7 linked regions of the Homo sapiens genome follow. The protein of the gene in region 6 purifies or fractionates together with the protein of the main gene of each other region. This does not show direct contact. Each region holds a gene or a part of one and is shown on either strand. Other genes may lie near its edges. The genes, in order: BTAF1, PLEKHG3, TTC27, TOR1AIP2, CPT1A, SLC39A3 and ECPAS.

Region 1 (4,190 bases), on a different chromosome or scaffold from region 6:
TCAGCTTTTTCTGCTTTGCCATCCTTAAGAAAAATTGGCAAAAAAAAAAAAAATAAAATGAGAGGTTAACTTCACAAATTGTATTTTCCTTTAAAATCACACTTGTTTCTAATACAATTATTCAACAGAATTGAGTACTTCAAGTGATGGGGAAATTCATGATCTCCAAATACATTTATTTGTCAGTTTTTTATTTGGAAAGAACTTCAAAATTATGGAAGAATTATAAGAACATAACAAAGAACTTATTTGCTTTATCATTCTCTCTCCCCATTTATATATGTGTATGTATATATGGATGTCAGAAATATAGTTAGATATCAGTTTTTTCTCTGAACAATTTGAAAGAAAGTTGTAGACATCATGTCCTTTTATCCTTTGAGAGGAATCAGCATGTATTCCTAAGAACAAGAATATTCTCTTACATAACCATATAAAGATCAGATTAAGGAAATCTAACACTGATATTAAAATGTTCTAATATACAGTCTGTTTTCAAATTCTGCCAATTGTCTAAATAGTGCCTTTTATGGCAATAGGCCATTTCCCTAAAATATCCCTCTGAGCCCAGTTCTGGTCACTGAAAGTCACCCATAAGAATATTCCTTCAAACAGAATAAAAGCTATTTGAAGACGGCTATGCATGTTTCTTTGAGCCTTCTTTTTTCTATGTTAAACATGTCTCATTCTTTCAACTTTATCTTGACTTTCAATATGACATGATTGAAGAACCTGCCTCCATTCTGGCCACCAGGGACTTAATTTGTTACCATTTAAAATGTAGCTCCCCAAACTAGACATATTTCAAATGTGGTTTAACATACACATAGTATGGCAGAACGATTTTCTCTTACTTGAAAGTACACTTCTGTTATTACAGCTAGTTTTAATCATCATATACCCCACCATAATTTATACTAAGTATGCAGTGGATTTTCTGAACCTATGTAGGACTTTAAATCCAACTATATTGGTTTTACAATATTAGACTCACTAATATTTCCAAGTGGTGCATCCTTTTGATTATAGATTGTTATCTGATGTATTAGTTCCATCATCTGCAATAACAATGGCTACTATTTATTGAGAATCTACACTAGATATCCTTTCTGACTGCTTACATATATAATCTTACATCACAACCATGTAGTAAAATAGGTATAGAAGCTCAGAGAGATAATCTGCCTAAGGTAACCAGTTAACAGGAGGCAGGGCCAAGAACTCTCACCCATGAGTCTTACTGACTCCAGTGATAAGCTGTGCTTTAGCAGAAAAGGACTAAGGAAAGAAACCTTGTGGCAAGACACTGAAGACATCAATGAAAAAAAAAAATCAAAACTTCACACATCCCCTAGTATGCTGCAGAATTTATCTAGGCACCAAAAATTCCCTCCAGTGGTGATCTCATGGATACTAAAGTAAACGCATTTTGCTGCTCCTTTAATACTTTCAACTTAGCAGTCACAGGAAGCCTGTGACTCAAAGATACAACAAATTGTGTAAGTTCTTTACCTTATCAAGAGTAAACAGATCAAGAAGCTGATCAGTCCCCATGCTCTGCAAACTAGAATTCTCTTGGCTAATAACAGTATTCGCTATGTTCATCTTGAATTTCTGCAACCCCATTATTTTTTCTTCCAATGTTCCTCTGGTTATCAATCGGTATACGTTAACCACACGTTTCTGGATAAGAAAAACAGTTAAGCAACCGTAACACATATTATGCTTTGAGGTTCCAACGAGTCAGAGGGCTTGTAGACTTGTACTATTTTATACTACCTAATTAGGGTTGGATTTTTATTTTGTCTGGCCACATGAGCTCAAAATGTGTGCAGCAATCACAGAATATTAGGGATGAACAGTGATCCAGGTTTTCCTAAGTGCTAGCACCTCATTTAATGCATGAGGAAGTGATACCACAGAAGAGTTAAGTGATCTGTCCAAGGTCATAACACATGTATGTTAACACCAGAGCAAGAACTAAACCAAGGTTTCCTATCTTTCTGGGGGAGTATATTTTCATGCACAGGTTAACATCTGTGAGGTAAAATTGACTTTTACCTGCCCAATGCGATGGGCCCGGTCCATGGCTTGTAGATCTCGCATAGGATTCCAGTCATGCTCCACAAATACTACTGTGTCAGCGCCTGTCAAATTAAGTCCCAGGCCACCAACGTGAGTGGTAAGTAACAGAACGTCTATAGATGGATCATTATTAAACCTAAAAGTAGATAACAAAAATAAAATTAGTCCATTCTTAAGTCCTATAACAGAAACTGTTAATAAAAATTAAAGAGCACAAATGAAAATGCTGCTTTAAAAATCCACAATAGGGATACTTACATGATCATCTGAGAAAAATATCCTCTCAATATGTATAACGTTTTTAGTAAAAGAGGGCATTCCAAAGCTATTCAGGAATTTCATAAATACAAAATAAGGCAAACTGCATTGAATTTAGTAACATCAGGTAAGGACTAACTTGCAAAAATATAATTAAATGCTAATTATAATTAAGATAAACCCAACTATGAACCTTTAAAGTATGGGGACAGAGAAGTGTGAGAACAGGCTAGACTTTCATTCAGGGACGACAGAAGGTGAGAGTGTTAGGGTTGCTACTACTGTACTAGTCCTAGAAGACACTGACAAAGGATATCTAGTAACTTCTAGGAAAAAGAAAAAACTAACATTAAAAATAGCAGCTACCAAGCTACGATTTATTATCCTTACTACAAGTCAAGCAATAGTCTTTGTACTTTATATGCATTATTTTATTTAATTGTTACAATAGCTCTATAAGGGTATTATTACCAATATCCCTATTTTAGAGAGACTGAGGCTGTGTGAATGATAAACAGGCTCAAGAGAACACTGCTTAAATAGCAGAGCCAGGAGTCAAACCTGAGCCTGTCGGCTTCCAAAGTCCCTCCCCGGGTCTCTAACTTTATTGTGCCTAATGATCTCTTAGGGATGCTTGTTTTTTTTTTTTTTTTTTTTTTGAGACAGAGTCTTGCTCTGTTGCTCAGGCTGAAGTGCAGTGGCCCAATCCAATCTCTGCTCACTGCAACTCTGCCTCTCGGGTTCAAGTCATTTTCCTGCCTCAGCCTCCAGAGTAGCTGGGATTACAGGCATGTGCCACCACATCCAGCTAATTTTTATATTTTTAGTAGAGACAGGGTTTCACCATGTTGGCCAGGCTGGTCTTGAACTCCTGACCTCAAGTAATCCACCCACCTTGGCCTCCCAAAGTGCTGGGATTACAGGCATGAGTCACCGCGCTCAGCTGGGATGCTTGTTAAAAATGGCTACTCTTGAAGTCAGCAGCTTTGGGACTAAGCAGAACCTAGGAATCTGCATTTTTTTTTTAAAAAAAAAAGCAACCACTGAGATTTTAAAAGTAGAGGCTGCAGACCACATGTGAACACTGCACTCACCAGTTCTGCTTCCTAGCTGGGCCAGATTCCAACTTGTTCTCAGTGCACAAACAGGGATTAGGATGGAGATTTTAGCTAAGCCACTTGTTTGGTTCCTCTCACCCTAATTCTCCCAAAAAGGTAAGGGGGAAAGTAGTTATCCTTACTGTTGGTTGATGCCTTAAATTTCTTTCATGCTCTTCAGAGTGCTTTTCTATTACAGTCACACCCTTTTCATATGCTAAGCAAATAATCTATTCGATTATATTTATGTAGTTCTATAGTTAAAAAGGGGTTTATTTGGGGTGAATTACACAATTAAAAAAATGCATTTGCAGATATTTAGCCAATGAAAATATTTCATGGGGCAAACTTCTATGTAAGTAATAATATATTTATTTATGAATAAGAGTCTTAGAAGCCACTTACCGGGAAACAATGGAATGCCTCTGACCAGGAGGTATGCTGCCATCTAATCTCAAATAAGTGACAGAGGGCAAGTGAGGTTTGAGGAGATCATGCTCTACTATATCAAGCATGCTTTTCAGCTGACAGAATATCAGTATCCTGTGCTGGGCCACAACAGACTCTGTGCCACTCTCGGAAGTGCTGCCATTTCCCAAACCGCAGTCCAACAGCAACTTAGGAAGAAAAAAAAAAAAAACTACATAAGCGTTCAATAAAAGCAGAAAACTAATCTCACTGTGACATTCCTCTCTGTGGCAAGAAAAGGTTAAATGTACCTGAAATCTGGAAAGCAGATTAGCACTTTGG
Region 2 (4,190 bases), on a different chromosome or scaffold from region 6:
TTTTGTATTTTTAGTAGAAACAGGGTTTCACCATGTTGGTCAGGCTGGTCTCGAACTCCTGACCTCAGGTGATCCACCCGCCTCGGCCTCACAGAGTGCTGGGATTACAGGCATGAGCCATCCCGCCTAGCTGAAATAGACATCTTTCTAAAGCATGTTTTGTACTCTTGAGCCTTTTAAAACAGAAGGTGCTGGCCACCGTTGAACCTTTCCTTTTCTGGAGTTAATGCTACAGCATCACTTAGGGTGTGTGAACTGCCAGATGCTTGAGGGGCCCCAGAGGCTGTGGGTTGCCATAGAGACAGCCTGTGTTTGGTGTGTCGTGCCCCTCTTCACGGTTCTTCTGTAACACTGAAGTATTTGTTTTCATTGGTCTAAGTATGCTTGTCTGTAGTAGCCCTTCTTCCCCTCCTGTCTGTTAGAAAGCGATCGTTCAGGCCAGGTGTGGTGGCTCACTCCTGTAATCCTAGCACCTTGGGAGGCTGAGGTGGGAGGATCACTTGAGTCCAGGAGTTCAAGACCAGCCTGGACAACACAGTGAGGCCTCATCTCTACAAAATTAAAAAGTTAGCTAGGCATGGTGGTGTGCACCTATAGTCCTAGCTACTCTGGAGGCTGAGGTGGGAGGATCACTTGAGCCTGGAAGGCAGAGGTTGCAGTGAATGGATATCGTGCCCCTGCACCCACCCAGCCTGGCTGACAGATGAGACCTTGTTGCAAAAAAACAAAACAAAACAAAACAAAAAAAGAAATCAATCTGTTGAACTTGTGGGAACTGTAGACCACAAAAAGATCAGGAAAGTCACTAGGGAGGGACTTGGGCCACATGCAGGCACTTTACTGCCTGGGCTCAGCCATCTACTCTGACTTCCTTGAGGTTTTTTCTGCTTCTGCTTCCCACTCAGAGAGCTGAGATGAGCTGACAAGTGTATTCTATTGATAATTAAGTTCTATTGTTTAATTTAAATTATGTCTCACTTATTAAATATTCTTGATAAGTTTTAAAATGAAAGAATAGAACATTTTCTACTTTTCACTTTAAAAACAATTAGGCATTTACTTACATTGATACAGATAGTGTATGTATGTTGTGTGTGTCAGCAGAAAAGAGGTTCTTCAACAGGCCTGCCTGCTGAGGAACAGCAAGATACCTTGGTAGACTTTCCTTCTGACTCCAGGTGTGTAGCAAATCATGGCGATCCCTGGGCCTCCCACTTACCGCCAGCTGGGCAAGGATATGGATAGGCGAAGGCCGAGGCTCTGTAGAACTGGACCTTGAGACAAGGTCCTCTTATTCCTGCCCTCCAGTCTCAGGTGTATCCTCAAAAAGGCTGGGGTACACGGTGATGACACCATTGGCCTAATGGATGTGTTTTGTATCCTGTCCCCAGAGCCTGGTCACTCTCCGTACAGCCGGGCAACTCTCCCCAGCGGTCAGCGAGGCTTCGTGATGCCCAGCCTTAAGGGCCGTAGAAAGTCGGGTGCGACCTCTGCTTTCCAGCTGGGATGCTGTGAGGGGCTTGGCAGTGGGTGTAGCTGATGCGCTGATATGCTCATTGCCAGGGAGGCAAGGGGCTTGAGGTGGAGCCAGGGACCTCCGGAGATGTTGCTAGTTGGTCTGAAGGGGGTAGCATGGAACTGAGTCCCCTCCCTATGGCTCCTGCGCGAGGGCCCTGGGCCAGGTGCCCTAATGCATTGCATCATGGGTGGTACTGCTCCGGCAGGGCTGGTAGTCACAGCGGGGGTCCTGGAGATGGATGGGCCCGCCTCCCTGTCCGTAGGTGCAAGGGGGCTCGCCGACACTGTGGAAGGCAGCTTCCCTGGGGCCTATGACTGCAGGGGGCCAAGCCAGAGTGGACTTTGAGCTGGTGATGGGCTGGTGGCGCTGTGAGCTTGGGACCCAGCCAGGCACAGCAGTTTCCTGGCCCGCGCTGACTCTGCTCATGCTTTCCTCCTCAGAGCCAACCAAACACCTGCTCAGGCAACTCAACGAGAAAGGTGAGTGTGTGAGGTGGCCAGCCATTCCCAGTGAGCGGGGGAGGAGGAGGGAGGAGGGGAAGCAGCCGACAACCTGGGGTGTGACCTGAGGGTGGAGGATTGTCAGAATAGTGTAGAGGGAACTCTGCCTCCATTCCCCCCAGAAGAGGGCCTCGCCCCTGGCTGGCTGAGGAGAGGGGCTGGAGCTCTCCCCCATGCACAGGCCTCATGCCCTTTCCTCCGGAAACAATGAGAGCCGAGCAACAGGCACAGACCTGCGCTGCTCTGTGGCCCCTGGGCCCCTGCTCTGTCAGTCATTCTTTTGAAAGCCCAGGAGACTAGGTGAGGGTTCTGGGAGCAGGAGCCCCCAGTGAGGACTTCCCCAGGGAGCTGTCCAGAGGTCTTTTTCCTGCTTACTGATCTCTTCCCCTCCCCTCCCCTGCCCCTCGCCCGTGTGCTGGGGGACCCGGTGGTGATGTCTGCAGCCCGAGCAGCAGGAATGAAGGTAAAGGCCAGTGGGAGGAGGGGACTGGCTGACAGAGGAGGGTGGGACTGCCCAGGTCAGCCCCCGGCCCCTTCAGCCCTCATTGTCTTCATTCATTCAACAAATGCCTACTAAGCACCCACTGTGTACCAGGCTGTGTGGCTTAGGGCCACAGAGATGAATAAGACATGGGCCTTGCCCTGGGGGCCCTTCTGCACCCTCTGCCTAGAACAGCACCCTGCTGGGGGCCTGCCCAGTGTGGACCTACTCAGATTTCCCTCTCCCTAGGGTAGACAAGTAGGCAGGCCTGTTTGGGTTCTGAAGTTTTGACCAGGTCCCAGCCTTTCCACCATGAGAATGCCCACCCCTCCCTGGACCCCAGTGGCAACCTGAGTTGGGCATCTAGGTGTGGCTTTCTGTGTGAAGGCTCCCCCCCCGCAGCTGCCTGCAGGAGGACGGGAGGTTGCCCAAGAGGCTGGTCACGAGGGGGTCTTGTGCTCTGAACAGCATGCAGGCAGTGCTGGAACCCTCCTGGACTTTGGGCAGCCCTCCCGTACTCGGGGCCTGCAGCCAGAGGCTGAAGGGGCTACCCAGGAGGAGGAAGAGGAAGAGGAGGAGGTGGTGGAGGAGGAGGAGGAGGAGGAGGAGGAAGAGCAGGCCTTTCAGGTCTCTCTGGAGGACCTGACAGGGCATGAAGGCAACGAGAAGGGGGCTGGGCCGGAGCCCCCAGGCTCAGAGGAGGAGGAGGAGGAGCAGGAGGAGAGCCTGGCGGTGGCGGAGCAGGTAGCCGACTTTGCCAGCTCCCTGCTGGCCGCCCTCCACTGCTGGCACTATCGGGCCAACGCTTTACTTTTCTCCCGGGGCGCTATGGTGAGGTGTCTCTTCGATCTCCCCTCCTCCTTGCATGCTCCCTGGGATGTGCATGCCCACCCGAGGGCCCCCTCTGCTGCCCTCCTCACCCCACCCTGCCCTGGTTTTACTCCTCCCCTCAGCACTTAACACCATCGCTCGCTGTCACACCCTGGTGAGCCCCTGGCATGCTCTGTTCCAGTACTGGGCACTAATCAATATAACGCCCAACAAGCATGACAAGTGGGGTGGGGTGGTGGGGGCAGGGAGAAGCTAGCACACAGTGGGGCTGGAAAGGTCAAGTCCACTTTGGAGGGACAGAAAGGTGGGCTGAGGTTTTTTGAAGCTGCATGCCTGACAAGGCTTTCCGCAGCCCCAGGCCTGGCAGTTCAGGTTGGCTCTGGAATGGCTCAGGTCCAAGACTGGCTCTCAGCTCAGCCCAGCCCCTTGGGGCGTGGGAGGCACTGCCCGTGTTGGGATGCAGAAGGGATCAGCTTCCAGTTGTCTTGGAGTTGATGACTGACCTCTACCTCTGCAGGGAAAGGGGCGCAGGGAGTCTGAAAGCTCCAGGAGCAGCAGAAGGCCCAGTGGCCGGTCTCCAACCAGTACTGAGAAGCGCATGAGCTTCGAGTCCATTTCTTCCCTGCCAGAGGTGAGCGACCAGCAGGTGGGATGGGGATAGTAGGAAGAACTTGGAGTCCAGATTTTCAAGTCTGCAAATAGGGCTTTCAGGCACAGGCTCTCCCACTGGGCCCATGGGAACAGAGATTCCCCACCTCCCAGGACTCTCAGCCCTGCATGAAGCCTGTTTGGCCTAGAGTATATGGTTTGGTGAGCAGACCACCCCTTTCTATGAAGTAGAGAAAGGCTCCCCTTTGGG
Region 3 (4,190 bases), on a different chromosome or scaffold from region 6:
ACCATCCTGGCCAACATGGCAAAACCCGCCTCACTAAAAATACAAAAATTAGCTGGGTGTGGTGGTGCATGCCTGTAATCCCAGCTACTCTGGAGGCTGAGGCAGGAGATTTGCTTGAACCAGGGAGTCGGAGGTTGCAGTGAGCTGAGATCGCACCACTGCACTATAGCCTGGCAACAGAGCAGGACTCCATCTCATAAAAAATAAAATAAAATAAAATAAAAAAGTAAGCTGTATCAAACAATTTCAGTGGCTATCTTCAGCATAACATATTTAAAAGGTTAATGTATGACTTAGAGCCAGACTCATAACAGGATAAAATCCAGACTTTCTAGACTGGTCTTTGTAATCAAGGATCTTTGTAATCTGACCTTGTCCAGAGAGTGGATGTTGGAACTTTTGCTTTTCTTAAAGTGGTTTGAAAACAGCTATTCTGCAGTAAGTTATTTCAGAGACATAATGAAAAAATTTTGGTCTTACATGAAGTCAGATAGTGTAATAAACTGTTGATATAGAACCAAAAGATCCTGGCTTTAAGCTCTGGTTCTGATGCTGAGAAGCCCTGTGATCATGAACAAATGACTGTATTCTTTAGAACTTTTGTTTCTGTCATCTGTGAAAAAGAGATAATAATAGTTCTTCTACCTACAACACTCAATGTGTTACTTTTTTTTTTTTTTTTTAAAGGGTGGTAGTTTGATGCAAAAATTAGTATGTGGACTGTAGTGGCAGAAATCCTGGGTTTGAGTCCTGGTACCAGAGCTTGTTGGCTTTCTAATTTTATAAGTCATTTAAAACCTGAGGCTGGGCCTCAGGACTTTCTTATGTGAAATGGAGAAAATACCTTGTAAACTCTAAAGCACTCTGAAAATATTACTCTTCATGACTGTACAGTAGATCTCATGGGTAAGTCAGTAGATATAATTTTATTGTTTTTTCAGGTGCTTTGGGAAAAAGAACACGGTTCCAGGAAAATTATGTGGCACAACTGATTCTAGATGTAAGAAGGGAAGGGGATGTCCTTTCAAATTGTGAATTCACTCCAGCACCCACTCCTCAGGAACATTTAACCAAGGCAAGTAGGACATTAAGTTATTAAATTCAATTAACACCTGAGTCTAAGAATTTCAATAGCTGAGTACCATAGAAACACTGAATGGGTTGGGGACAGACTTCATTTTATTCTTTCTTTTGCCTTTTAAAGGTTGCTGAGTCAGGGAGAACTGGTGTTTAACTGGTGTTTTTTTTTCCTAACCTGTGATAGAAAAAACTGGTGTTTTTTTTTTCCTAACCTGTATATAGAGATAAATACTGTTTTTCTTCTAGGATTCAATAACTATGAATTAATGATGCAGTTAGTTATGTATTACCCCTCTTGAAGAAATACGAAAGGCAGACTGGGTGTAGACCAGTTTCTCTATCTGCTATCATATTTGTTTCCTTATGTTTGTCTTCTCTTGGAATCTCTTAGGCTTTTTCTAAATATATAAACATTATCAGAATTCCTTTTCACTAGTTTTGTGATCGGCCTTTTGTTTCTCTGTCATTATTGGGGGGGTGGTTGCCTTAGTATGTTTATTTGACATGTCTAGTGAATTCTCTTCTTTAGTTTGAATTATGACTCTTGGTCAGTTTACCTAATTATAGTCCACTCCAGCTGCTTCCATGAAGCCGTTTAGTATTTATGCATGTGTTTTCTGATCCCAGAAACCCCCAACTACTTTTTTTTTTTTTTTTTTTTGAGATGGAGTCTCACTCTATTGCCCAGGCTGGAGTGTAGTGGCGTAATCTCGGCTCAATGCATCCTCCGCCTCCTGGGTTTAAGCGATTCTCCTGCCTCAGCCTCCCGAGTAGCTGGGATTACAGGCATGCACCACCACGCCCGGCTAATTTTGTATTTTTGGTAGAGACAGGGTTTCTCCATGTTGGTCAGGCTGGTCTCGAACTCGCAACCTCAGGTGATCCACCCGTCTCGGCCTCCCAAAGTGCTGGGATTACAGGCGTGAGCCACCACACCTGGCTGTGTTTGTTGTTTTTTAATGTGGAGTTGTTCTATAGAAAAGTATCTCCCAGTGATTGACCTGGCATGGTGGCTCATGCCTGTAATCCCAGCACTTTGGGAGGCTGAAGTGGGTGGATCACTTGAGGTCAGGAGTTCGAGCCCAGTCTGACCAAAATGGTGAAACCCTGTCTCTATTAAAAATACAAAATTAGGCCAGGTGCAGTGGCTCACGCCTGTAATCCCAGCACTTTGGGAGGCCAAGGTGGGTGCACGAGGTCAGGAGATTGAGACCATCCTGGCTAACATGGTGAAACCCCGTCTCTATTAAAAATACAAAAAAAAAAAATTAACCGGGCGTGGTGGCGGGTGCCTGTAGTCCCAGCTACTCAGGAGGCTGAGGCAGGAGAATGGCGTGAATCTGGGAGACGGAGCTTGCAGTGAGCCGAGATCATGCCACTGCACTCCAGCCTGGGTGACAGAGCAAGACTCCGTCTCAAAAAAAAGAAAATAAACAAAAAAACAAAATTAGCCAGTTGTGGTGGTGTGTGCCTGTAATCCCAGCTACTTGGGAGGTTGAGGCAGGAGAATTGCTTGAACCCAGGAGGTGGAGGCTACAATGAGCAATGAGTGCAATTGCATCATTGAACTCCAGCCTGGGCAACAAGAGCAAAACTCCCTTTGAAAAAAAAAAAAAAGAAAAGAAAATTATCTCCTGGTGATAAATAGGATATGATGAGTATTATGAGAAATGTATGAAAATGATGTACCATTTAATACAGAATTTTAATCGTTTTTTTGCTTGTTCTTTCTTTTCTTTTCTCCTTTTCTTCTTTCTTCCCTTCCTCCCTCCCTCCCTCCCTCCCTCCCTTCCTTCCTTCCTTCCTTCCTTCCTTCCTTCCATTTTTAAATGGAGATGAGTTCTCACTATATTGCCCAGGTTTGTTTCAAACTCCTGGGCTCAAGCAATCTTCTTGCCTCAACCTCCCAAAGTGCTGGGATTCACCATGTAATACATGTTACAGGGTTAATGTGGTTAACATTTTTAATATATTACATGTGGCTATCAGAAATTTTTTCAGAATTATTTTATTTTAAAAATTTTGGCTGGGCGTGGTGGCTCACGCCTGTAATCCCAGCACTTTGGGAGGCCGAGGTGGACGGATCATGAGGTCAGGAGATGGAGACCATCCTGGCTAACACAGTGAAACCCCGTCTCTACTAAAAATACAAAGAATTAGCTGGGAGTGGTGGCAGGCGCCTGTAGTCCCAGCTACTCCGGAGTCTGTGGCAGGAGAATGGCGTGAACCCGGGAGGCGGAGCTTGCAGTGAGCTGAGATCGTGCCACTGCACTCCAGGCTGGGCGACAGAGTGAGACTCCATCTCAAAAAAAAAAATAAATCAATAAATAAAAAATAAATTTTACCTGTTTATCTATTTAGAGACCAGGTTATGAGACTGGCTAATTTTTGTATTTTTGGTAGAGATGGGGTTTCACCGTGTTGCCCAGGCTGGTCTCGAACTTCTGGGCTCAAGCCATCCACTTTCCTCAGCCTCCCAAAACTGTTGGGATTATAGGCATGAGCCACTGCACCGGCCAGAATTTAATCTTTTGTATGTGAAATAAAATACATTCAGATAATCTTATGGTCTTTGTTAATTACTACTTGAAGATGGAGAGTACAAGTTGTATGCTGTAGGTATGGATTAGATAGAAACATAGCTTTATTCTAATGGGTGGAAGAGAATTGTTAAGTTGGTTATATATCATATTACCTTGTGTTAAACACATTATTAGATTGTAATATACACCATCTGTTTAATAACCATTTTTCAGGAAAAGGAAAGGAACACTACTATACCATTTATAGTGATTACAAAACATATCCTGATTGGAAATGTTACAACATGGCCCGGTGTGGTGGCTCACGCCTGTAGTCCCAGCACTTTGGGAGGCCGAGGTGGGAGGATCACTTGAGGTCAGGAGTTCGAGACCAACCTGGCCAACATGCCGAAACCCCATCTCTGCTAAAAATAGAAAAGATTATCCGGGCGTGGTGGTGTGTGCCTGTAATTCCAGCTACTTGGGAGGCTGAGGCAGGAGAATCGCCTGAACCCAGGAGGTGGAGGTTGCAGTGAGCCGAGATCATGCTACTGCACTCCAGCCTAGGTGACTAAGTGAGACTTTCTC
Region 4 (4,190 bases), on a different chromosome or scaffold from region 6:
AAAATGGAATTTCTCACAATAGGAAAGGCTTTTCCTAAACAAGAAACAAAAACTGCCTTTCTAATTAGAGAATATTAATTTTTCAAGTGCACTTTAAAGTTATGACTCCTAAAAAAATGGTCGGCTATAGGTAGTAGGTGCATTGAGAAGATGAAAAAAAATCTTGATCACTCATGTCTAAATTACATCATTAGTTATAATAACAAATACATAGACTCAGCTTTTACCTTTTATTTTTAAAAATTTTTTACCGAGTACTTAACTCTTCCACGTAGCTTTTATCTTTTAACAGATATATCTTCAAATAATTAAATCTGAGAAGAGATTAGAGAAAAGGTACTTCTGGTGGATTGAAAGTTTAAACAATTTATGCAAAAGAAACTTATTGCTCCTAGTAAAACCTGCTGGTATCTCTGCCTCATTTCAGTTTACCACAGGCTTTGTTTCTGGCTCGTGTTCTCTGTAATTTTCTATTCCTTTTTCATTCTTTTGACAGGCCCTGTGATTCTTGTCGTCCTGGTTGTGGCTGTTGTGGCAAGTTCTGTGAATAGCTACTATTCCTCTCCAGCCCAGCAAGTGCCCAAAAATCCAGCTTTGGAGGCCTTTTTGGCCCAGTTTAGCCAATTGGAAGATAAATTTCCAGGCCAGAGTTCCTTCCTGTGGCAGAGAGGACGGAAGTTTCTCCAGAAGCACCTCAATGCTTCCAACCCCACTGAGCCAGCCACCATCATATTTACAGCAGCTCGGGAGGGAAGAGAGACCCTGAAGTGCCTGAGCCACCATGTTGCAGATGCCTACACCTCTTCCCAGAAAGTCTCTCCCATTCAGATTGATGGGGCTGGAAGGACCTGGCAGGACAGTGACACGGTCAAGCTGTTGGTTGACCTGGAGCTGAGCTATGGGTTTGAGAATGGCCAGAAGGCTGCTGTGGTACACCACTTCGAATCCTTCCCTGCCGGCTCCACTTTGATCTTCTATAAGTATTGTGATCATGAGAATGCTGCCTTTAAAGATGTGGCCCTGGTCCTGACTGTTCTGCTAGAGGAGGAAACATTAGAAGCAAGTGTAGGCCCAAGGGAAACGGAAGAAAAAGTGAGAGACTTACTCTGGGCCAAGTTTACCAACTCTGACACTCCCACCTCCTTCAACCACATGGACTCAGACAAATTGAGTGGGCTGTGGAGCCGAATTTCACACCTGGTACTGCCAGTCCAGCCAGTGAGTAGCATAGAAGAACAGGGGTGCCTTTTCTAAAGCTAAGCACAGAGTTGGTTACAGAAGGTATATGTTTATGAAAAAGTTTGTTTAAAGACCTTCCATTTATATGGAAGGAGGTTGATAAAATAGCTTGAGGAAATAGCCTGAAAAACAAAGATGAGCTTATTTTAGAAACAAGTTTTTATTTTTTATTCCTTGTAAAATCTTTCTAATCTAAGCCTTGACAAAGCTAAAAATTAACCTGACTTTTTTTCTTTGGACCAAATCAGGTTTGAAATATCGATGATATATATGAGAATTTTTTTTAAATTCTAAAATATAGCAACATTGCACAGGAAGATACTCTTACTTCTTAGAGTAACTACAGAGTGATTTTTTTTTTTTCTTGAGTGAGACTCTGAAGAACCTTTTCGATAATGTTTGGACTTGGACTAAAGCAATTAGAATTATGAAGCAATGATAACCTTTAGAAAATTTTTCTATCACATGTTGAATATTTTCAAACCTTACTTTAATAATCTAAAGTTACGGGATTATATCTTATATTAATTTTGCAGTTTTGAGTAGTATGATAAAAGAAATAAGAATTCAAACCATTAAGTACCTACCTAAATACTACATGTAAGGCACTGTGCTTTTATTTCATTCAGCTGAGGTATAAGCAGCTGTACTCAAATGTTCTTAAAAATGAGAACCAGTGGGGAAATTGTTTATAATCATTGGAAATGAAGAAATTCCAATTGGCTATATCTTTACTTCAGCTTTTCTTGAACAATTTACAGCATTGATTTTCAAACTGTGTCTACTGGCACCCTTCCCCTTTGTATCAGAGCAGTTCTGCTTTTAACTGTTTTATATGTTGGGGTTCTCTATGAGATTTCATTGGAACAAAGAGTTTCACTGATATTCGAGTTTGAAAACCATTGATTAAGTGAAAAAACATCTTAGAAGATAGGAAATATGTTTAAAAAATGAATGTATTAAATCTTATGAGTAGGAAGATGAAATACAGGTTTATTGTATAGATACATTATTTATGAAGGATAAAGATCTATACATGAACAGCAGAATGTATAAGCTAGCATTTACTAGCATGTCTCTGATGCTTTTGTTCATTTCTGTTAATCGTCATTTCTGTCCCCTCTGCATGGAATTTTATACTTGTCTAGGGTAAGAGTTTGTAGACTCTTTCAGCAGAACAGATTTTAATAACCAATTTATTTGTTTTATTTTAAAAATTTATTTTTGAATAACCAATTTAATAGTAAATTTTATATGAACATTTGGCATAACTTTACCAGTTTATTTCTATGCAGTGATGGAACATTATGTAATGCAGCTCATTTCTTGACCAACTAGTTATAGAAGTACCATTAGGTTAAAAATTAGAGAAATCTAAGAGATGTTATACTTAGTGAGAGGAAGCAGAAATGGTGGGTAGATTCTCAGAGGTTTTGATGTTCAGTACTGACGGACCATGTTCTGTGATTGTAAGAAAGATTGAAAACAGTTTGTATGGAGATAGAGTTGATTAGCATTTGAGCTCTGAAAGCAGAACTCTAGTAAAATGATCTCGACCTAACAAAGGGTCTGTTCCATTATATAGACTATTACCATAATCCTGGATTATTTCAACTGGGTTTTGGCCTCTCCATTATATGAGATCATATGTATATAGCTAAGAAGTCTGATTAAAGTATGGAAAGATTTTAGGAAACACTAAGAAGATACAGGGATCTTTACTGATACCTAAAAAGATTACAATTGAGTAATTGCTCAATTGAGTGTAGGGGCATACCTGAAGGAAGAATTTGCATTTGGGACTTCGAAGGAAGCTTCCAAGAGATTTGGGAAGAGACCTGAACAAAAAGTTAAAGCATGGTGAATGTGATATCACTGTCAATCCAGTATAAAAGCAGAGGAAGTTGAAGGAAAATCTGTATCCCATATGCACATTTTTTCTGTCTTTTTAGATCTTAGATGCTAGCGTTACATCCACAAAACCAGTGTTGCCTTGTATAACTATTATATTGGCCTGCTGACCTGTGCTACCTCAGATCTGTCAAGGAACCAGTATGTCGCATATTCTTGTTTCTTCATTCAGTTGAATATGGTTTTTCATCATTTCTCTTCAAAATAATTTAGAAAAATAAATTTCTAAAGTCATAATTTTTAATTTAGCCTTTTTAAAAACATTTTCCCTTCCATGTATAGTGCAATCAATTGAGGGTGTTGTCAGTTTTCTGTCTGCTATTTCAAAAGTCTTTTTTTTTTTTTTTTTTTTTTGAGATGGAGTCTCACTCTGACTCCCAGGCTGCAGTGCTGTGGCTTGATCATAGCTCACTGTAGCTTTAAACTCCTGGGCTCAAGCAATCCTCCCACCTTAGCCTCCTGAGTAGCCGGGACTACAAGTGCAGACTACCACACCACTCTACCACACTATTTTGTATAGAGACAGGGTCTTACTGTGTTGCCTAGGCTGGTCTTGAACTCCTGGCCTCAAGTGATCCTCCCACCTCAGCGTCCCAAAGTGTTTGGATTACAGATGTGACCCAATGCACCCAACCAAACTTCTTTTTTTTTTTTTTTTTTTTTTGAGAGAAGGTCTTGCTCTGTCACCCAGGCTGGAATGCAGTGCAGTGGCACAATCTCATCTCACTGTAACCTACACCTCCTGGGTTCAAGTGATTCTTGTGCCTCAGCCTCCCAAGTAGCTGGGATTACAGGCATGCACCACAATGCCCAGCTAATTATTGTATTTTTAATAGAGACGAGGTTTTGCTATGTTGTCCAGGTTGGTCTCGAACTCCTGGCCTCAATTGATCCGCCTGCCTTGGTCTTTCAAAGTGCTAGGATTATAGGCACGAGCCACTGCACCTGGCCTCAAAAATCATTTTTAAAAGAAGCAGTATATTAGCTCTGGGTCTTCTCATGACTAAAATGACTATTTTTAAACATAAGACCATATTTTA
Region 5 (4,190 bases), on a different chromosome or scaffold from region 6:
AGTAATGGTTAGATAAATACAGACAAATATGATCTTAGAAAAAAAATTTGGAAAAGCCACAAAGATTCACAATTTTATAAAGAAGATAGCCAACGTATTGACAGACCCAGTTATCTGACCTAGCTATTCAGAAGCCCACCAGAAGTTTAACAGCTGCTACTTCTTTCCCACTGTGCCTGCCCTGCCTCTAGCCAGCATCGGCACTCGGGCAGGAGCTCAGACTGCAAGGAGGAGACCTGCACCTGCCCAAAGGACATCCTAAACCTCCTCTTCGTACCAGTATATTGTTCCCACAAATGTCCCTAAGACAACAGGAGCGGTGTCCCCTGTATCTCCCATGCATATTCTTCACCTTTGCACAGAATATAACAACTTGAACTTCTAATTCAAACTGAACTTGAACTGAACTTCTAATGTGGGGACTGCAAAATACATTGGTGTCCCTAAATGCCGCCTGCAGCCAGGACATTGTTTGCTAGAGCCTGTATTTACTTTACACACTCAAAACTCTCTTCACATCTGACCTCTGATTGGATCCTCACAAAACTCGTGTGACATGGAATGACAGGTTCAGACCCACCACCTTACAGATGAGGAAATGGAAACCCAGAAACCCTAGAGGCGGATTCAGTGCCACACCCAGTCTGCATGGGGTAGGGAGTGGGGGCCTCCAAAACCCAGGCCCTCTGGCTGCCCAGTGGTCTGGGAAGCAGCCTGGGAAAGGGAAAGAAAACACACAGATCTGGGTTCAAATCCCAGCTCTACCAATTACTCAGACCTGTGACCTTGAGCAAGTATTTGCCTCACATAAAGTATGCAGGATGCCCTTACCTCCTCCGGCAAACTGCAGGAGGACGTGGCAGCCAGCTCTGACACCTGTTAGGTCTTTACTGCAGGAACACGTTCTTTGTCCCTTTCCAACTGTAGCCCTGTGGTGCCAATGCAAACCCTCTAGGAATGTGGATTTCTCTTCCTACCTGTTGCACCCCCACCCCATGCCAAATCTCAATGCCAGCATTTGATACCTTCTGACTTCGATGTATACCTTTTAGCAATCTGTGGTTGTATTTTGTGCAAACTGTACTGGACATCACATTGAGCCACTGTGTGTATTTGAAGAAGTATAAAGAAACCAGGAAGCCCGGCGTGGTGGCTCATGCCTGGAATCCCAACGCTTTGCAAGGCCAAGGTGAAAGGGTCACTTAAGGCCAGGAGTTCAAGACCAGCCTGGGCAACATAGTGAGGCCTGTCTCTACAAAAAAATATAAAAAATTAGCTAGGTGTGGTGGCATATGCCTGTGGTCCTAGCTATGTAAGAGGCTGAAGAAGGAGGATCCCTTGAGCCCAAATGGGAGATTACGTTGAGCTATGATGGCACCACGGCACTGCACTCCAGCTTGGGCACCAAGGCAAGATCCTGCCTCGGAAAAAAAAACTCCTGGCGCAGTGGCTCATGCCTGTAATCCCCGCACTTTGGGAGGGTGAGTCAGGCAGATCACCTGAGGTCAGGAATTCAAGACCAGCCTGGCCAACATGGTGAAACTCATCTCTACTAAAAATACAAAAATTAGGCAGGCATGGTGGCATGCCCCTGTAGTCCCAGCTGCTTGGGAGGCTGAGGCAGGAGAATCACTTGAACCCAGAAGGCAGAGGCTGCAGTGAGCCGAGATCATACCGCTACACTCCAGCCTGGGCAACAGAGTGAGATTTCCTCAAAAGAAAGAAAAGAAAAGAAAATAAGAAAAGAAAAGAGAGAAAGAAAGAAAAATGAAACAAAATCTCCAAGAAAAGAAAGGGAAGGAAGGAAGGAAGGAAGGAAGGAATGAAGGAAATAAAGAAAAAGGAAAGCAAACCTCCATGTATTAAATCTTTTTCAGGGCACCAGAGGAGATGACAGTTGGCAAATCAGGGATAAATGCTTTTATAAATGAAGAATCATTTTATAAAAAGTCAAATTTCAGTGATAGCATATGACAGTTTTGTCTCTTCTCTTCTCTTTTCTTTTCTTTTTTGAGACGGAGTCTTGCTCTGTCAACCAGGCTGGAGTGCAGTGGTGTGATCTCAGCTCACTGCAACCTCCAACTCCTGGGTTCAAGCGATTCCCCTGCCTCAGCCTCCCGAGTAGCTGGGATTACAGGCGTGCATCACCATGCCCAGCTACCTTTTTGTATTTTAGTAAAGACGAGGTTTCACTGTGTTGGCCAGGCTGGTCTCGATCTCCTGACCTCATGTTCCGCCCATCGTGGCCTCCAGAAGTGCTGGGATTACAGGCGTGAGCCACTGCGCTTAGCTGACAGTTTCTCCAGGGCATCAGAACACAGCGTTAGGAAAGCTGTCTGTGGTGACTCAATGTGACCTGATGACCACAGGACCCCCTGAGTGAGCCAGGGCTGGTGGGCGAAGCAGACATCACTGCAGAGAGCTAGCAGCTTGCTGTGGGGAGAGAATAGGGACGTGGTCTCGGGTCCAGATGTCCTCAGCCACAGTAGCAGCATGAAGGAAGGTGCATTGAGGGGGGACCCAAATGCTCCTCTGCTCCCTGCCTCCCTCACAGGAACTTCCCATAACACAAACAGGAATAACAGTGCCCCTCGTCAGGCGGTTATGGCAATCCAGAGTGGAAAAAGGGTGCTTCGGGCAGGGCGAGGGGGCTTATGCCTGTAATCCCAGTGCTTTGGGAGGCTGAGGTGGGAGGATCGCTTGAGGCCAAGAGTGCACTATGATTGCGCCACGGCACTCCAGCCTGGACAACAGAGCAAGACCTTGTCACTAAAGAAAAAAAAAGAAAGGATGTCTCAAATGTTCTGTCATTCCTTCAACACATATCTGAATGTCTGCTCTGGGCCACTGAAATAATGAGGAAGGTGAATGTAAGGGTGAGTTAGGAAGAAGTAGCAGCACTTAGCCCCGGCTGCATGTGGGGGCTTAGGGAACAGGAAGAATGCAGGCTGGCTCTCCGGCTCCTGGGCTGGGTACCACAAACCACCCGCATCAGGAGTATGAAGCCTTCCTTTCTTAACATAAAGGACTTGGTGTCCAATGCCTAACCTATATCCCTCAGGAAGCAGAGCGGTACCCACCCTACTGCCCAACCCTCCAAGGTGACGGTGACCCTCCTGCACACCCTGGAGAGGGCACGCCTCACTCAGCAGCATGATTTCTTTCACTGTTAACTTCCAAAGACGTTCCTGGACCGAAGAACAATCCTCACCAAAAAAAAGGCAAAGGCAGACACTTCTGAGGCCGTCAAGATACCCAAATAGGGTAGCTGGCCTCAGCCCAGGGCCTGCTGGAGATCCAACCTTCACCTGACATTTGGATGGGGTAAAAGTTGAAATTTACACAAGGTAACAAATATTTGAAGCTAGCAAGCAGAAAAAAGTCCTTACTTGTGTTAAGCAATCAATTTGTTTAAAAAACATATCCTGTACATGTCGTCAAAGAAACTGGTAATAGTGGTGGCATCTGGAGAGGGGAACCAAGTGAGAAGGACTCTACTCTGTATCTGCACCTTTTTAAAAAAAAAAAAAAAAAAACAGAGACAGGGTCTGGCTGTCACCGAGGCTGGAGCGCAGTGGTGCAATCATAGCTCACTGCAGTCTCCACCTCCTGGGCTGAAGCCATCCTCCCACCTCAGCCTCCTGAGTAGCTGGGACCACAGATGCACTCCACCAGGCCCTACTAATTGTTTGTAGAGACAGGGGTCTGGCTCTGTTGCCCAGGTTGGTCTCGAATTCCTGGCCTCAAAGCAATCCTCCCACCTTGGCCTCCCAAAGCATTGAGATTACAGGCGTGAGCCACGGGGCCGGGCCCATCTGTGCCTCTTTAACTTTGCATCGTATGCTTATATCGCTTATTTGTAAAAACAAAACAAAACAAAAGTCTTCACAAGAAAAGCTCAAGACTGGCAGAAGACAAGTGAGGCCTCTTTAAAGTGTGTTGGAGAGATTCTCGAGAGATTCTCTCCAACACACTTTAAACAAACAATCTCGAACAGCCATTTTAATTCTTAAAGCACCAATTCTTCCGGAATTCAAGTTCAGGCTTCCACCAGCAACAGAATTCTGGCCTGCCAATAATAACCATGCAGAGTGACTAAACATTTTTTCCAACAAAGGAAAAAATGCAAACGATCAAAGTGCAGAAGCAGCCCTTGGCCCGCGCAGGCTCCGGTTTCCGCCTCCCGCCGC
Region 6 (3,187 bases):
TGGCAATGTCTGGAAACATTTTTTATTTTCACAACTCGGGTAGGGGGAAGGTGCTGACATTCGGGGCTGGATTGTTCTCTGGGACGGGGCCGTCCTGGGCACTGCAGGGTGCTGCTGAGCAGTGTCTCTGGCCTCCACCCACTCCAGGCCAGGAGCACCCCCCATCGTGACAACCACAATGTCCCCAGGCATCGCCCAGTGTTCCCTGGGGGCAGTTCACGCTGGGTGAGCCTCTGCTGCAGCAGAAGGCTGTGTTTCCACGGAGAAGCCACTTAACTCCCTCACTGACCACCGGCTGGAGGCCTCATGCATGCCTCGCTTGAGGACAAGCTCATGAGGAACTCTAGCTACTCCCAAGAGACAGACGTTGATCAGGAGAGATGAGGCAGATGCACGGGAGCTGTGAACCAGGCACCATTTTCCAGGGGTGACTGAGAGCCTGGCCCTGCAGTGGGTGAGGCTGGGGGCTCGGGAGTAGGGACCTCATCCGCCTGACCAGCCCGAGGACAGGAGAACGGCGGGAAAGGTTTGGGTGCCATGAGAAGGCCACTGTGATGAGGGGGAGGGAAGAGCAAGCTCCCCGCAGTCGCCCAGGCCTGCAGTCAGAGGGTGACGGGGGTGACACCATGACCATGGGGGAAAAGGGGGGCTGGCAGTGGCCTCTGCGATGCAGGAGATGTCAGAGATGACCAAGATCTCCATCCTCGCAGTGCAGATGTCAGTCTTCACACACCGCGTAACGAACGAATGCAGACTCAGCCACGCGGAACAGCAGGAATGCGGTGTCTCGGCTCTGAACGGTGGAAATCCAGGTGCGGGCTAGCTGGGCCCTACGCTCCAGGTCTCGCAGGGTGTCATCAGGGCTGAGATCTCACTGACACCCAGGGTCCTCTTCCAAGCTCACTGGAGGTCGGAAGAGTCCACCTCCTGGTGGCTGTGGACTGAGGCCCCGTGTCCTGGCTGGCTGTTGGCGGGGATGGCTCTTGGCACCGAGAGGCTGCCCTCGGGTCCTCGCTTCATGCCCTTCTCCTGGCACACCCTGGCTTTTTGCTTCTCCAAGGCCAGCAGGAGGGTGAGTGGCTCACCTGATTAGGCCAGGCCCACCCCCTCCCTTTTGATGAACTCAGCGCTAACCGATCTGGGGCGGTCATCACAGCTGCAACATCCCCTCTGCTGGGATTCTGACATAATGGCAGGAGTGACACGCACGGCAGTCCCAGCCCTACCCACACTCGAGGGGAGGGAAGAGCATGGGGCGTGCGGAGCAGGGGCTGGAAGCTCAGGGAGCCACCCTGGAACTCTACTCTGCCACACTAACAGGCTCAGATGATTTAATCCCAGACAACAGCCCTTCTCCTCCTTTCTGGACACTAGGCACGAGGAAAAGCAGGGCCAGGGGTTGGGGGATAAGCTTAGGGCTTCCATGCTTTCGTTGGGAGGAAGAACAGGGGGTCCTCATATCTCCACCAAGTATGTAACCAACACAAATTCAATGTCACATCTGGCACTGGCCCAGAGAGAGGAAGCCACTCACCCAGGGTCACCCAGCAAGCATGGCCAGGGCTGGTCACACTGTGGCCTGACAGGGGACCCACACTCTGGGCTGCTGATATGGGGGAGCTCAAGGAACAGGTCAGCAGAGGATGATGCTGTCAGGAGTTGGGGTGGACAGACTCCAAGATGGCCCCAGAAGCCCCTGCCTCTTGACAGCCATACCCTGTGAGGTCCTGGCCACTTGAGTATGGGAAGGACTTGAACTTGCTTCTAACCAGCAGGACACTGGGGCAGAGGGGAAGGGATACCCTGTCACCTCTGCATGACATGGGACTGTGCCCTCTGTCTTACACAGAGTCATGGCCATCTTCTCCATTTGCTGATGAAGGAACTGATCATGCTGGGGAGGTCCACGTGGCCAGGCTCTGAGGGCTGCCCCAGCCAACAGACACTGACAAACAGACACCTTCGGTCTGACAACCAATGAGGAACTGAACCTGGCTTACAACCACATGAGCTTAGAGGCCGACCCATCCCCGGTTGAACGTTGAGATGAGACCACAGCCCAGGAGACACTGTGACTGCTGCCTTGTGAGCTCCTGAAGCAGTGCCCAGACCCCTGACTCACAGAAACTGTGAGATGATAAACGTCTGTAGTCCTAAGGTGCTCAGTTTGCTATAATTTGTTACGCAACAGTAGCTGACTGATATAGGAACCGAAGAGAGGCCATGCTTTCCAGCTTCAGGACAGAGTGTGCCCTACCTAGGTGGGTAGTCTGGTCTGATTATCAGGTGACAACCGACAAGTCCACCTGTTGGGAATCCCAGGTCTGGTCCAAACCCCTTGTTTGGCCGGTAGAGCACAGAGACAGAAAGTAACCAGTTCACAATCACACAGCAAATTCACTTCCTACTTTCCGTCACCCTTACAGCATCAAGGCCTTCACTGAACTTGGCATCAGTGTTGAAAATGCATCAGAGTCCCTTGGCCATAAGGTGCCAAGGGCTGCTGCTAGTGCCCAGGGAGCCCTTACCTTTTCCCTCACAGCGGGCAGCAGAGCGTTGAAGCACGTGGCCAGAAACACCCCTCCTCCAAAGGTGTTGCAGAGAGAGAGGATCTTTTTCGAGCGATGGGCCTTCTCAAAATCTGTCTCGATGATCTTCACGGGGAGCAGGGAGCCGAGCAGCATGAAGAAGAACACGCCCACCATGCACAGGATTTTGGCCACTAGCAATTTCACCATGGTGGCGGCTTGGGCTGCTCTGGTCACTGCAGGGCCAAACCATCTGTGGGCGCACACCCAAGTCCCACGATGTGCTACCGAGCCCAACCACACAGTTGGAGGCTCATGTCTCAGTCCAGCAACTGTGAACATCAGGGGCACTGCATTAGCTTTCTTTCTTTTTTCTTTTTTTTTTTTTAGACAGAGTCTCGCTCTGTTGCCAGGCTGGAGTGCAATGGTGCAATCTCCGCTCACTGCAACCTCCGCTTCCTGGATTCAAGCAATTCTCCTGCCTAGTAGCTGGGATTACAGACACGCGCCACCACTCCCAGCTAATTTTTTTTGTATTTGTAGTAGAGACGAGGTTTCATCATGTTGGCCAGGCTGGTCTCGAACTCCTGACCTCGTGATCCGCCTGCCTCGGCCTCCCAAAGTGCTAGGATTATAGGCGTGAGCCACTGCACCTGGCC
Region 7 (4,190 bases), on a different chromosome or scaffold from region 6:
AAAAACAAAGCATAACTAATTCAACAGTTTTCCTTCTTAGGTTAGAACCATTCAGGTCAAATGAAAATCCTCTGACAACTTAAGGAATTATTTATTAATTCTTTCTTTTCGGCCCTTTATGTGTTGTTTGGAAAATGAGACACAATCAGAGGCAATTGAAGAATTAAAAGGCCTTTATGTGGTATCTGGATAAGACTATTGCTGAGATCAGTCTCTAGGTGGTCTGAAATTGGTTGGGTTTATATTTTTACACTTTAATGTCACTTATGAGTTATTAGTTGTACAGAATTGTAGCTGAATACATAGAGATGTAAGACTTTGGGTGGAGTGTGTAGACCACTGGATAGTCACTGACTTCTAAAATATGTATTATAGTTGTTTATGGTTTAACTCTACGAGGTAAAGCATACACATAGATATTTACATAATAATTTACTTAAAGTACCCTATCTTGTTTTTTAATGTGAGTCAAATTCAAAGATGTAAGCCAGATGAGTCCCCGGACCTCATGCAATTTCTGAAAAGAAGTGATTTCTTATAATGTGTTATGTTGACTCTGCTTAGATAGCCAAGAATGTATTTAAGACATTTTCTGAGAACTCTAGCTGCCAAATAAAATTGCTGTTCTTATTCTTCAAATGATCATTTCCCATTGGTGACATTTATTTTTTATTCTTATTTGTCTTTTTCTGAAAGACGTGAAGAAGTTCATGGAGAAGCACAACGCGTATTAAGGTGTCTTCCAGGTAGAAACAGAAAAGAAAGTACTTCTGAGCAGATGCCTTCCTTCCCAGAAATGGTTTATTACATCCAAGAAAAGGTATGGCATGCAACTTAAGGTAATTAGTCTAAATCATAATGGATGATGAAAATAAAAACATCTTTAAAGTGAAAAATGTAATCACTAGATGTTGACTCATAAAATTTCTTTTTCTTTTCTTTTCTTTTTTTTTTTTGAGATGGAGCTTCGCTCTTGTTGCCCAGGCTGGAGTGCAATGGCACGGTCTTGGCTCACTGCAAACTCCACTACCTGGGTTCAAGTGATTCTCCTGCCCCAGCTCCTGAATAGCTGGGATTATAGGCGCCTGCCACCAAGCCCGGTTAATTTTTTGTATTTTTAGTAGAAACAGTGTTTCACCATGTTGGCCAGGCTGGTCTTGAACTCCTGACCTCAGGTGATCCACCTGCCTTGGCCTCCCAAAGTGCTAGGTTTACAGGCATGAACCACCATGCCCAGCTGACTCATAAAGTTTCTAGCATTAATACTTACAATAAGAAGAAGATACAAAGTGAGGAAAAAAAATTGTAATCCTCACCTGTAATTGATCTGTTTTGCCTAAACTTGAATTACTTATAATTCCTTTCATGCTTGGCAACATTTTGGCTGTGTTAAATATTTTTTCCCTTAATATGACATGCTTAAAAATACATCTCCTTTTTTTAAAATTTTTTTATTTTTTTTTGAGACAGGGTCTTGCTCTGGTCACCCAGGCTAGAGTGCAGTGGTGTGGTCTCAGTTCACTAAAACCTCCACGTCCCAGACTCAAGTGATCCACCCTCCTCAGCCTCCCGATAGCTGGGACTACAGGCGTGCACCACCGTGCCTGGCTAATTTTTTTATTTTTTGTAGAGACAGAGTTTTGCTATATTGCCCACGCTGGTTCTCCTTTTTATTTTTAAGGGCACGCTTTAGGGTAGTGTAAGTTTAAGGATGCTTCAGGGAACAGTTCATGTTCTTCCCACCGTGTTCATAAGAGAGCATCCCATCTGCTTTTGTAAGTTTTTGCTTTTGCACAGTGTTTTCTGCTAGTAGATCCAGGATATTGGCAGTAATGACCATCCACCCCCTCCAGGCCTTGACTCTGTCCCACTTTGCCGGAGGACACCTTCCTACCTTTTACCTCCACTGGTGATCCTAGCTCTTTGCTAGGTAGGCACCTTAAGGGAGTTGAAGGTCAGTATGCAGCGGCCATGATTCTGTTTTCCACATAGCAGCACAGTCTATTTGTGGTCAGAAGATTCTCTGCTTGTAGTTTCCTCCTACTTTGATTATTAATGAAAATAACTGGCATGCAGTGACCTGAGATGACCATATTAGTAGATGTCTGGAATAGGTTTATTATTTTTAAACAAACCAGAACAAACATGGAAAAAGGGCAATACACTTGTCTTTTAGTGTGTGAGGGACATGCACGATCAGCATGGTTAATAGGAAAGTGGAAAATGTTTGATCAGAAAAAGAAGCAAACTTAGGACATGTAGCTAGAAACACAGTTGTTTTTGAGTTGAGGAAGGGCAGGTATGCTTCATTTTTCAGTAATTGTGTCTGTTTTGGACTTTTTAAACTTAGGCTTCTCATCGAATGAAAACTCCAGTCAAGTACATGACCGGGACCACTGTCCTTCCATTTAACCCAGCAGCCTTTGGAGAGGTAGAACTTTCATATATTTCTATTTACTTTTTGTAAGTGTTCTAAAAAGATCACACCACACCCAAAGAGGGGTCTGTCATTTTGTTGTGTTTTAGGTAAACCCATATTGTGGTGTCATTGTTCTTCATCGGGTTGTTTATTTAAAAAAAAAGTATTGGGAAATTGGTATTATTTTAATTCATAGTGAAGTATGTAAATATATTTATCTCAGTGAGATTCTTTTTGTGAAAAAACTGGATGTTCTGTAGTGATTACTATTGGGATTTTGCAGCAAGTTAGATTTGGGTTTTAAAGCCAACCTGTTGTTGAGGTTGTTAGGGTTATTTAGTTTTGAAGGTTGGAGAGGATTAAATTGATCACACTTATTAAGGGAAATTCTGTTTTTTAGATTATTGACTTGCTCTAGGTAAATTACAAGAGGTGATCTTGTTCGGATTAAGAATATTCACAGTGAATTTGCTGCCTATCCTATTTTAACGATCAATGAAAAAGCTTCCAGAGGATGGACTCCTTGGCAGCCTGTTTATGTAAGGGTTGTTTTTTTTGTTTGTTTGGTTTTTTTTTTTTTTGAGAAGGAGTCTCACTCTGTTGCCCGTGCTGGAGTACAGTGAATGGCGTGATCTCGGTTCATTGCAACCTTGCCTCCTGGGCTCAAGTGAACCTCCGTCCCAGTCTCCTGAGTAGCCATGACTACAGGCGTGCACCACCACCCCTGGCTAATTCTGTTATCTTTTTGGTAGAGATGGGTTTCACCATGTTTCCCAGGCTGGTCTTGAACTCCTGAGCTAAAGCAGTCCTCCTGCCTCAGCCTCCCAAAGTGTTGGGATTACAGGCGTGAGCCACTGTGTCTGGTCTATATCAGAGGTTTTTATGGTGTTATATCTATTTTTCTGTAGATGAATTGAACCCATTTTCTCAGATTCTTGTGTCAATGGAGTAAACACAACTGGAATTCTGCAGGAGTAATAGGCCATTTACTTCAGATTTCTTTCCTCTCTCTCTGTCTTTCTCTCTCTCTCACACACACACACACACACACACACGGCTTTTAAAAAATAATGATTTTTATTATAATTTTTAACTTTTATTTTAGGTTCGAGGGTACATGTGAAGGTTTGTTATATAGGTAAATATGTGTCATGGGGGTTTGTTGTATATACTATTTCATTACCCAGATATTAAGCCCAATACCCCATAGTTATCTTTTCTGCTCCTCTCCCTCCTCCCACCCTCTCTCCTCAAGTATACCCCAGTGTCTGTTGTTTGCTTCTTTGCGTTCAGAAGTTCTTATCATCTAACTCCCACTTATAAGTGAGAACATGTGGTATTTGATTTTCTGTTCCTGCGTTAGTTTGCTAAGGATAACAGCCTCCAGCTCCAATTTCTGACTTTAAAAGTTCAGTTTGTATTTTAACAATCTTAAAAAATTCTTTGGATTTGCAAACCTTATTATACAAATTTTGCTCCATTATGGCATATTTTCTGCCTTCCATGAGGATTGGAATAGCTTTATAAAGAAGTGTGGGTGAATCAAAACTAGAAATTGTTACTTTGAAGAGTACCTTCCCACACTGACTTTTCGAGAAGCTTATGCAGTCTTCCTCTCCGTTCTGTTTGTAGATCGTTCTGTACTTGCGCATGTGCCTTGCGCACAGTGCGGGGGTGGTGCCCACCTCTCAGAGTTTGGCTGATATGCAGGATCATGCCCCAGCCATTGGGCGCTACATACGGACTTTAATGTCAAGCGGGCAGATGGCAC

Evidence for each region.
Region 1: the proteins of SLC39A3 (region 6) and BTAF1 purify together in Homo sapiens (affinity purification with mass spectrometry; one large-scale study listed by BioGRID and IntAct). This does not show direct contact.
Region 2: the proteins of SLC39A3 (region 6) and PLEKHG3 purify together in Homo sapiens (affinity purification with mass spectrometry; one large-scale study listed by BioGRID and IntAct). This does not show direct contact.
Region 3: the proteins of SLC39A3 (region 6) and TTC27 purify together in Homo sapiens (affinity purification with mass spectrometry; one large-scale study listed by BioGRID and IntAct). This does not show direct contact.
Region 4: the proteins of SLC39A3 (region 6) and TOR1AIP2 purify together in Homo sapiens (affinity purification with mass spectrometry; one large-scale study listed by BioGRID and IntAct). This does not show direct contact.
Region 5: the proteins of SLC39A3 (region 6) and CPT1A purify together in Homo sapiens (affinity purification with mass spectrometry; one large-scale study listed by BioGRID and IntAct). This does not show direct contact.
Region 7: the proteins of SLC39A3 (region 6) and ECPAS purify together in Homo sapiens (affinity purification with mass spectrometry; one large-scale study listed by BioGRID and IntAct). This does not show direct contact.

The regions. Positions count from the first base shown.
Region 1 is NC_000010.11:92,024,623-92,028,812, reverse strand, and holds part of BTAF1 (TATA-binding protein-associated factor 172), read right to left. Parts: intron 4,058-4,190; coding exon 3,846-4,057; intron 2,222-3,845; coding exon 2,062-2,221; intron 1,684-2,061; coding exon 1,513-1,683; intron 24-1,512; coding exon 1-23. UniProt on the Homo sapiens protein: Regulates transcription in association with TATA binding protein (TBP). Removes TBP from the TATA box in an ATP-dependent manner.
Region 2 is NC_000014.9:64,734,894-64,739,083, forward strand, and holds part of PLEKHG3 (pleckstrin homology domain-containing family G member 3), read left to right. Parts: intron 1-1,959; coding exon 1,960-1,998; intron 1,999-2,462; coding exon 2,463-2,482; intron 2,483-3,848; coding exon 3,849-3,962; intron 3,963-4,190. UniProt on the Homo sapiens protein: Plays a role in controlling cell polarity and cell motility by selectively binding newly polymerized actin and activating RAC1 and CDC42 to enhance local actin polymerization.
Region 3 is NC_000002.12:32,665,694-32,669,883, forward strand, and holds part of TTC27 (tetratricopeptide repeat protein 27), read left to right. Parts: intron 1-941; coding exon 942-1,075; intron 1,076-4,190.
Region 4 is NC_000001.11:179,843,135-179,847,324, reverse strand, and holds part of TOR1AIP2 (torsin-1A-interacting protein 2), read left to right. Parts: intron 1-496; coding exon 497-1,254; 3' UTR 1,255-4,190. UniProt on the Homo sapiens protein: Required for endoplasmic reticulum integrity. Regulates the distribution of TOR1A between the endoplasmic reticulum and the nuclear envelope as well as induces TOR1A, TOR1B and TOR3A ATPase activity.
Region 5 is NC_000011.10:68,835,056-68,839,245, forward strand, and holds part of CPT1A (carnitine O-palmitoyltransferase 1, liver isoform), read right to left. Parts: intron 1-4,190. UniProt on the Homo sapiens protein: Catalyzes the transfer of the acyl group of long-chain fatty acid-CoA conjugates onto carnitine, an essential step for the mitochondrial uptake of long-chain fatty acids and their subsequent beta-oxidation in the mitochondrion.
Region 6 is NC_000019.10:2,734,520-2,737,706, forward strand, and holds part of SLC39A3 (zinc transporter ZIP3), read right to left. Parts: intron 2,861-3,187; 5' UTR 2,739-2,860; coding exon 2,529-2,738; coding exon of another isoform or gene 2,421-2,528; exon of another isoform or gene 7-2,420; intron 1-6. UniProt on the Homo sapiens protein: Transporter for the divalent cation Zn(2+). Mediates the influx of Zn(2+) into cells from extracellular space. Controls Zn(2+) accumulation into dentate gyrus granule cells in the hippocampus.
Region 7 is NC_000009.12:111,414,513-111,418,702, reverse strand, and holds part of ECPAS (proteasome adapter and scaffold protein ECM29), read left to right. Parts: intron 1-696; coding exon 697-820; intron 821-2,350; coding exon 2,351-2,431; intron 2,432-4,051; coding exon 4,052-4,190. UniProt on the Homo sapiens protein: Adapter/scaffolding protein that binds to the 26S proteasome, motor proteins and other compartment specific proteins. May couple the proteasome to different compartments including endosome, endoplasmic reticulum and centrosome.